Linked DNA regions of Homo sapiens. The protein of the gene in region 1 interacts with the protein of each later gene in a pairwise test. Each region holds a gene or a part of one and is shown on either strand. Other genes may lie near its edges.

What was found.
Region 2: the proteins of TGFB2 (region 1) and UNG interact in binary tests that used the Homo sapiens proteins (3 or more experiments, as listed by UniProt).

What each region holds. Positions count from the first base shown.
Region 1 is NC_000001.11:218,407,673-218,411,488, forward strand, and holds part of TGFB2 (transforming growth factor beta-2 proprotein isoform 2 preproprotein), read left to right. Parts: intron 1-3,816.
Region 2 is NC_000012.12:109,107,559-109,111,770, reverse strand, and holds the end of UNG (uracil-DNA glycosylase), read right to left. Parts: intron 1,943-4,212; coding exon 1,802-1,942; 3' UTR 779-1,801; downstream 1-778. UniProt on the Homo sapiens protein: Uracil-DNA glycosylase that hydrolyzes the N-glycosidic bond between uracil and deoxyribose in single- and double-stranded DNA (ssDNA and dsDNA) to release a free uracil residue and form an abasic (apurinic/apyrimidinic; AP) site.

The DNA.
Region 1 (3,816 bases):
GAATGGTGCTAAATCCCAGAGAAATTAAGTAACTTGGCCAGGGTCACACAGGTGGGAAATGGCAGGGCTGGGATACAAATCCACCTCGGACTCCCAAGTCCCTCCTGCCCCTCACCACATACTATGCTATTCCTAGCAAAATTTTCCCTTTCTCTTACCCTTGGGATCAGCCAGAATAGAAGAATAATAAGACAAACTAGGCTAGAGGATGAAGTAATATTTGGAGGGGAAGCAAAAACTGGTTCCTATGAAAAAAAGCCAGATTAAGGGTAGCCAGATAAATTACAAGATGATTTAAACAAACAAACAAAAAACATGATTATATCTCCTTTTTCTTCTCTTTTTTACCAATTAAATCACCCTTAAATTTCCTTCTTTGCTGACGATAGCATCATAGGTTGCTCTCTTTGGCCCTACTTTAGTTACATGGCTTCAGTAAATTGGAGGCAGGGTCACCTAGGTCCTGTTACCTGTAATGGAAGCTGCTAAGTCCCTATTTTTCTGTGGCCCCTTGACCCTGTCCTCTGAGGAGTAGCCTCTGCCAGCAGGCTTGCCAATGGCTTTTTTCCTCCCAGGGCCCATCCCATCTCCAGGAAAGGGTGTTTCTCTTGAGGCTGGCAACTTAGAGGACCTTAGTGAGTTCTTGGTAGATGTGCCTCAGAGGTTTCTGAAGCACCGGCTGCTCCATGACGCAAGTGACATGATGTGCATGGCTTAGAGTCCCACGCTTGAAAGAGGAACGGCCCAAGATGGAAGCTTTTAGTTTGGAGAAGCATGGGCACGTTCACTGTCACTATACACGGGCATCTGGAAGAAGAAGATTCTAGCAGAAAAATATAAAATAATAGCAATTTTTTTATCTTTCTGGGGCTCAGCTATACAACTCCTGAAGCACAGACAAGGTCCAGAGAGCAAGTCAAAGAGATCCTTGAACACCCGAAGAGAAGACAACTCACACACACTTTTGATGGATCAGAAAGGCAGCCTCTTGTCTTTTATTGCTTCAACTAGTTTGACTATCTGTAGGGCCAGAAGAAATTAGAAGCACTGAATTAAAAGAGGAGGGCTAGAGGAGGACACCGTGACATCAACAGCAGGTCCTTTAGACCAGCAGTCCCCAGCCTTTTTGGCACCAGGGACCAGTTTTGTGGAATACAATTTTTCCACAGAGCATTACTTTTATTGTGCACTTTATTTCATTGTAATATATAATGAAATAATTATACAACTCACCATAATATAGAATCAGTGGGAGCGCTGAGCTTGTTTTCCTGCAACTATATATGGTCCCATCTGGCAGTGATGGGAGACAGTGTCCGATCATCAGGCATTTGATTATCATAAGGAGCGTGCAACCTAGATCCCTAGCACGTGCAGTTCACAATAGGGTTCTTGCTCCTTTGAGAATCTAATGCCGCCGCTAATCTGACAGGAGGTGGAGCTCAGGCAGTACTGCAAGCAATGGGGAGTGGCTGTAAACACAGATGAAGCTTTGCTTGCTTGCCTGCTGCTCACCTCCTGCTGTGCGGCCCGGCTCCTGATGGGCCATGGACCTGTACCGTCCAGGTTGGGGACTTCTGCTTTAGACTAAAGATTTTTACCACTGTATCACAGTAACGCTATCTCAGATAATCAGACCACAGAAGCAATGCCTGTTGTGGACAAGTTTTCTGAATCTTACCCTGTTTATAGTTAACCCACTCTTTATCTCTTTGGCTTCCTGTCTGGCTTCTGACTTTTGCTTCTGGCCTCTTTATTTGGAGTCCTATTTTTAGTATGGTGTTCTCCAACTTTCCTTTTGTCTCCGGCTGCCATTTGGAGGTCTTTGTAGTCTTTGGTAATAAACTCCCATCTCTAGTCCTATTACAGGAATTGATGCCGATGGTAATAACCTTGAATTATGAAGATGAGGCTAAATTATAGTCAGGAAACTGAACACATGCAATAAATTTTACAGAGTTTCACATCCAAAATTGCTGAAATATTATTTTGGAAAAAAAAAACAGATTTGATGCTTAAATGGGCAGATCTTCAGCTATTTGGAAAGCTCAGCTCTTCAGAAGAACAAAACCTTTGAAGTTCTTGGATACCCTTTGATTACTGTACTACTTGACACACAATTGGCATCCTAATCCCTAGAGGAAAACAGGGTGACTATGAAAAGGTTCTCAGGTCGTTTACATGGTTGTTTGGATTATTTATTAGGACTCTTCAGGACACTGATGTTCAGTAGGAGGAGAGTATGTATGTGTGTACATGTGTGCACACGTGCCTGTGAACTTACATGTGAGCATAGGCACTCCACCAGGTTTGGAATCCCTGGGGGAGCTTTTACGAAGACTAACCACAGTTTCCTTCAAGGGGATTCTGATTTTCCCTGGAAAGGAAAATGAGAGTTGCCTCGGCACAGATGTTGGTTTCAAAGAGCTCTCCTGGTGACTCACATGTGTGATTGTTCAGATTTGGATCTTCCAATTGGAATTCGCAGATTTAAAATATAGCCCAAGAGTTTTGAGTCATTCTGTCTCATAAAAATGCCGCCAGGTATTCTTTTTAGAGTCACAATATGAGGCTGGATGGACGTAGGATAACAATTCTATACATGAGTTCAGGGTTTGTCTTGTCCAGAGCTGCGAAGGTCTATTGTTTCTCTCCACCTGGGATAGTTAGGAAACCCATGCTTCTGTTGAAGTCACTCTGAGCTTGTTTAAACCTGAAAGCTTGTGAACTTACGATTTTCATTACCCTCCCCTCTCTACAGAACAGTGTGTCAGAATATTAATGAATGATAGGAAAATAAAATCTTTCTTTCCTGCTTTCTCTAACCTCTTTCACGTTAACAAACTCTAAATAGCATCTACTGGTGTGATCAAGATAGGCTTCCCATGTATACCAATAATGGAGGGAATATGAGAGGGATAAAGTGTCTGAAAGATGAAGGGAAAGAGGAGAAAACAAAGATGAAAAACAACTGTTTTTAGATAGTAACGATCTTTGCCATATTTTTAAAGCTTTATGCCAAAGGCAGCCTTTATTGCGATATGTTCAGACAAAACTCCAGTGCTCTAGGAATGCATTCAAACCCATGATAGTTGTTATAGCTCTCAGCCCATTTGTAAATTTGAACACACCTTTCTTTGATTAAGTTTCCCCTGTATGTATGATTAAAATCATGACCAGAAGTATGAGGTAGAGGGAAAGAAAATAGGAAGGAGAATTCTCTTCAAGTTGAACATCTTCTATATGGGCAAGAACACCTGCTGTCTTGGAGTTGGATAAATCCCCATTTTACACATGAAGAAATGCTTGGGGAACTTAATGACATATCTAAGGGTACCCATAACTTCATGGCCCTAAACAATCCTTTGGGACCACCAAAGAATACTTATATTTAAATTTGCTAACCTCAGAGGACTTGGAGCTCTCCAGTATTTCTAGTTTCTTCTCACCAACTCACACCCTTTCAATAGTCATTTCTCATTTAAAACCTTACCACCTCCAGAATAGTATGATTCATACCACTGTCTGGGTTATCTATTTGCTGCACAACAAGCTTCAAAATGTTGTGGCCTCAAATAATAATCATTTTGTTATACTTCACAAGTTTTTGTGGGTCAGAAATTTCATCAGAGCTTGGCTGGATATTGTCTTGCTCCATGTGGCTTTGGCTGGGGTCACTTGGTAGCATTTAGATGACAGTTGGGCTGGTCTGGAGGATTGATGATGGCTTTGTGCCTATGCTTGGAACTTCAGTAGAATGACTGGAAGGCCGGGCTCAGCTGGGCTCCTCCCCCTAGATAGTCTCAGATGTCTCCA
Region 2 (4,212 bases), on another chromosome or scaffold:
TCTTTCTTGCCCATTTAGTTAAAAGTTTCTCTACTAAAAGTACAAAAATTAGCCGGGCGTGGTAGTGCATGCTCGTAATCCCAGCTACTTGGGAGGCTGAGGTGGGAGGATTGCTTGACCCCTGGAGGCAGAGGTTGCAGTGAGCCGAGATCGCGCCACTGTACTTCAGCCTGAGCGACAGAGTGAGACTCGCTCAAAAAAAAAAAAAGAAAAAGAAAGAAAGAAAAAAAAACACAATTGTGGCTTCTTTCTTCGGACACTGGGGGATCCCACAGATCATCCTGACAGCCCCCACTACCTGAGCCTGGGCTGCGGGCCAGTGCGTCATCAGGGAGTCTTCCTGGAGCCCTGGCCTCACTTCCGAGTTCCAGATGTCTCGGAGTCTAGAAACACTGGCTGAGCGGGGGATGCAGGCGGCTCCCCTCCAACGTCACAGGGCTTGGCAGAACGTAGCCACGACGGGCACGCCATGTTCCCCGAAGAAATGCCTTCCTCAGGCCGTTAGTTACCCCTCTGGGGTCTCAGCTGGCAGCCGGTGCTCCACGGTGCTCGGAGTTGGGGCGCTGCTCCAGGCCGGGGGTTGGGCCCAGCGCTCACCGCAGCCAGGGGAGGGTTGGGCCGTTCCACTGAGCGGCAGGGCGGGGAGGAGGGGCAAGGGCGGCCCCTCCTGCAGACGGTGGTTGCTATGGGAACCCTGGGAGGCGCCAAGGGAAAGGGCAGCCCAAGGACGTCCATGGATGCCCTGGCCTGGACGCACAAAGGACACTTGCACAAAACAAACTTTTAACAAACTTTTATTAACAAACCTCGCGTAGAGCCAACTCTAACCCGACTAACAGCAAAAACAGCATTGCTAACAAGATCAAGGATGGAGGTGCAGACCCAATAAAGACCGTCTCTTAAAAAAAGGACTGGGAAAAATATATATATATATATCTGCATGAGTACTTCTTAAAAAACTAAAACTTTCCAGTGTTGCAGGAAAAAATATCCCAAAGTGATTTCAGTCGGTTAAAAAAAACAGTACTTGGCAGTCTGTGCTGCCTTAAAAACCCCAACTGGACATAACCCTAGGAGAAAATCACCCCACCCCATAAAGACAAAATTCCCTTTTCTCCTCTTCCTTGTTCAAATTCCACTGCTTATTCCACCAACACCCAAGGAATAACAAGACCCAGCTTACTTCTCTCGGTCTCTTATCTGATAAAGCTCACAGCAATCTTAACCTCTACTACAATCAGGAAATTGAGCCCTAATTTCTGGGCCAGATTCTGGAAAGTTGCAAAACATCCTTATGCTGCGAGGGGCCTGAGGACTCCTTCAAAGATCAAGGGGGCAGTGGAACTGGCAGAGACTGGCATGCCTGCCCTGCAAGGCTGAGACAAGGGGACCTTTCTAAGCAAAAACACCCCAACATCTGTCACTGAAAGTCTAACCAGGCAAAACCAAGGAGCAGCAGGCGCCAAACTAGGGCTGTGCCTGAAAGGTGCACATCTCCCCTGTTTCACCATAAAGGCAAGGGAGATAAAGAGAGCCAACTGAGTATTTGACCTCATCTGTCTTCTGCATATTTTAGGCCGAAGCCATGTTGCAGAGAAAGACATTTGGTCAAAGGGTAGCCTTTGTTGTTTGTGGTTGGATACAGCTGCCATTCCTGGACAGCCTGGTTCATGGCTGCTTTCTGGAAGCTTTTCCCCCTTATGCAGAGTACTTAAGAATTAATAGGAAAATTTTCAGTGGAACTTCGTAACTGGCAAATACGTTAACAGCAGCTTCTCAAAGGCCACCCCTCAGCTGATGATCACAGCTCCTTCCAGTCAATGGGCTTCTTGCCAGACTTCTGCAGCAGCTCATTGGTCTTTGAAAAGTGTCTACATCCAAAGAACCCTCTATACACTGACAAAGGGGAGGGATGAGCCGTCTGTAGTACATGGTGCCGCTTCTGAAAAAGATCAAGAATAAATGGTGGCAGATTTGGGACTTTTTAAATTTTTTTTTTTTTTTTTTGAGACAGAGTCTTGCTGCAGTGGCGTGATCTCGACTCACTGCAACCTCCGCCTCCCGGGTTCAAGCGATTCTCCTGCCTCAGCTTCCCAAGTAGCTGGGACTACAGGCGCGTGCCACCACACCCAGCTAATTTTTGTATTTTTAGTAGAGATGGGGTTTCATCATATTGGCCAGGATGGTCTCGATCTCTTGACCTCGTGATCCGCTCGCCTTGGCCTCCCCAAAGTGCTGGGATTACAGGCGTGAACCACCATGCCCGGCCGGGACTTTTTTTTTTTTTCCCCAAAAAGGAAGGACTGTGGCTGTTGCACTTTAAGACCCTGTGCGATTCCCCTTTGCCCTCTAAATTCTCCCCCTTCCAAAGTGGAGCATTCAGCATTTGCATTAGAACATTAGTCCGTTTGTTGAGCAACTACCTACCTTTGCTAGGCTCTGAGATGCAAAGAGCACCACCCTCTGCCTTCAAGTTGGCAATTATCTATGCAATTTTCAAGTGTCCCTATCATACTGCCAGCAATTTCCACTGCTAAGACTGTATTTGCTAAAGGACACCATGATGCATACACACACAGATAAACTCCTCAACTTATTAACACAATGGATGGGGTTAACATCTTGGAAAACCCATCCTAAGTAGAAAATATCCTAAGTTGAAGATATATTTATGACATATAACCTGCTGAACATCATAGCTTAACCTACCCTACCTTAAACATGCTCAGAACACCTACATTAGCCTACAGCTGGGCAAAACAAAGCTTCTTTTACAATGAAGTGTTTAGTACCTCATGTAACTCATTGAACACTGTACTGAAAGTGAAAAATAGAACGGGGCCAGTCACGGTGGCTTACACCTGTAATCCCAGTGCTTTGGGAGGCCAAGGTAGGACAACTGCATGGGACCAAGAGTTTACAACCAACTGAGGCAACATAGCGAGACCCCATCTCTACAAAAAAATTAAAAAGTTAGCCAAGTGTGATGGCATGCACCTGCAGTCCTAGCTACACAGAAGACTGAGGTGGCAGGATCACTTGAGCCCAGGAGTTCGAGGCTGCAAAAAGCTATAATTGTGCCACTGCACTCCAGCCTGGGTGACAGAGCAAGATCTTTTTTTTTAATTTTTTATTTTTTGAGATGGGGTCTTACTCTGTCACCCAGGCTAGAGTGTAGTGGCATGACTGTGGCCCACTGTAGCCTCCACCTCCTAGGCTCAAGTTACTCTCCCACCTCAGCCTCCTGAGTACCTGGGACCACAGGTGCGTGCCACTACACCAGGCTAATTTTTTGTGTTTTTTAGAGACAAGGTCTCACTATGTTGCCCAGGCTGTTCTCAAACCCCTGAGCTCAAGTGATCCGCCACCCTGGCCTCTCAAAGTGTTGGGATTACAGGCGTGAGCCACTGCTCCCAGCCAAGAGACCCTGTCTCTTAAAGAAAGAAAAAAAAACAACGTGTGAGTGCTCAAAGTATGGTTATACACCATTGTAAAGTCGAAAAAAATCAGGTCAAACTTCATAAGCCAGGGACCAGTTGTACCTACACAAATAGGTACATATAAAGGGACTGACACACTGCTTATGTCAGCTAAAACCTAGTATACAATTCAGTGTTACAGAACTGGCTAAATGTATTTTTCTAAAGTTCTTACAATGTAAAACCACATAACTCCTAGAAAAACATGCGAAAGATAAATATACTGATGAGATGACCTCCAAAATTTACCAAGTGAACAAAATGCAAAATAATTTCATTTTTTAAAAACTTTAGAAAAATACCCAAGACACTGTATTTAGTAGTTCCTTTAAGAGAAAGAGTGGAAGCCATTTACTTTCCATTTTGTGCCTTTCTGAACTCTCTGAATAGTCTTACAGCTCCTAAGAAGGAAGAATTAAAAAACAAAAACAAAAACAAAAAAATCTCGCCACAAAAATGGAATAGTTGGCCGGGCGTGGTGGCTCACACCTGTAATCCCAGCACTTTGGGAGGCTGAGGTAGGTGGATCACCTGAGGTCAGGAGTTCAAGACCAGCCTGACCAACATGAAGAAACTCCGTCTCTACTAAAAATACAAAATTAGCTGGATGTGGTGGTACATGCCTGTAATCCCAGCTACTCAGGAGGCTGAGGCAGGAGAATCACTTGAACCCAGGAGGGGGAGGCTGCAGTGAACTGAGATCACGCCATTGCACTCCAGCCTGGGCAACAAG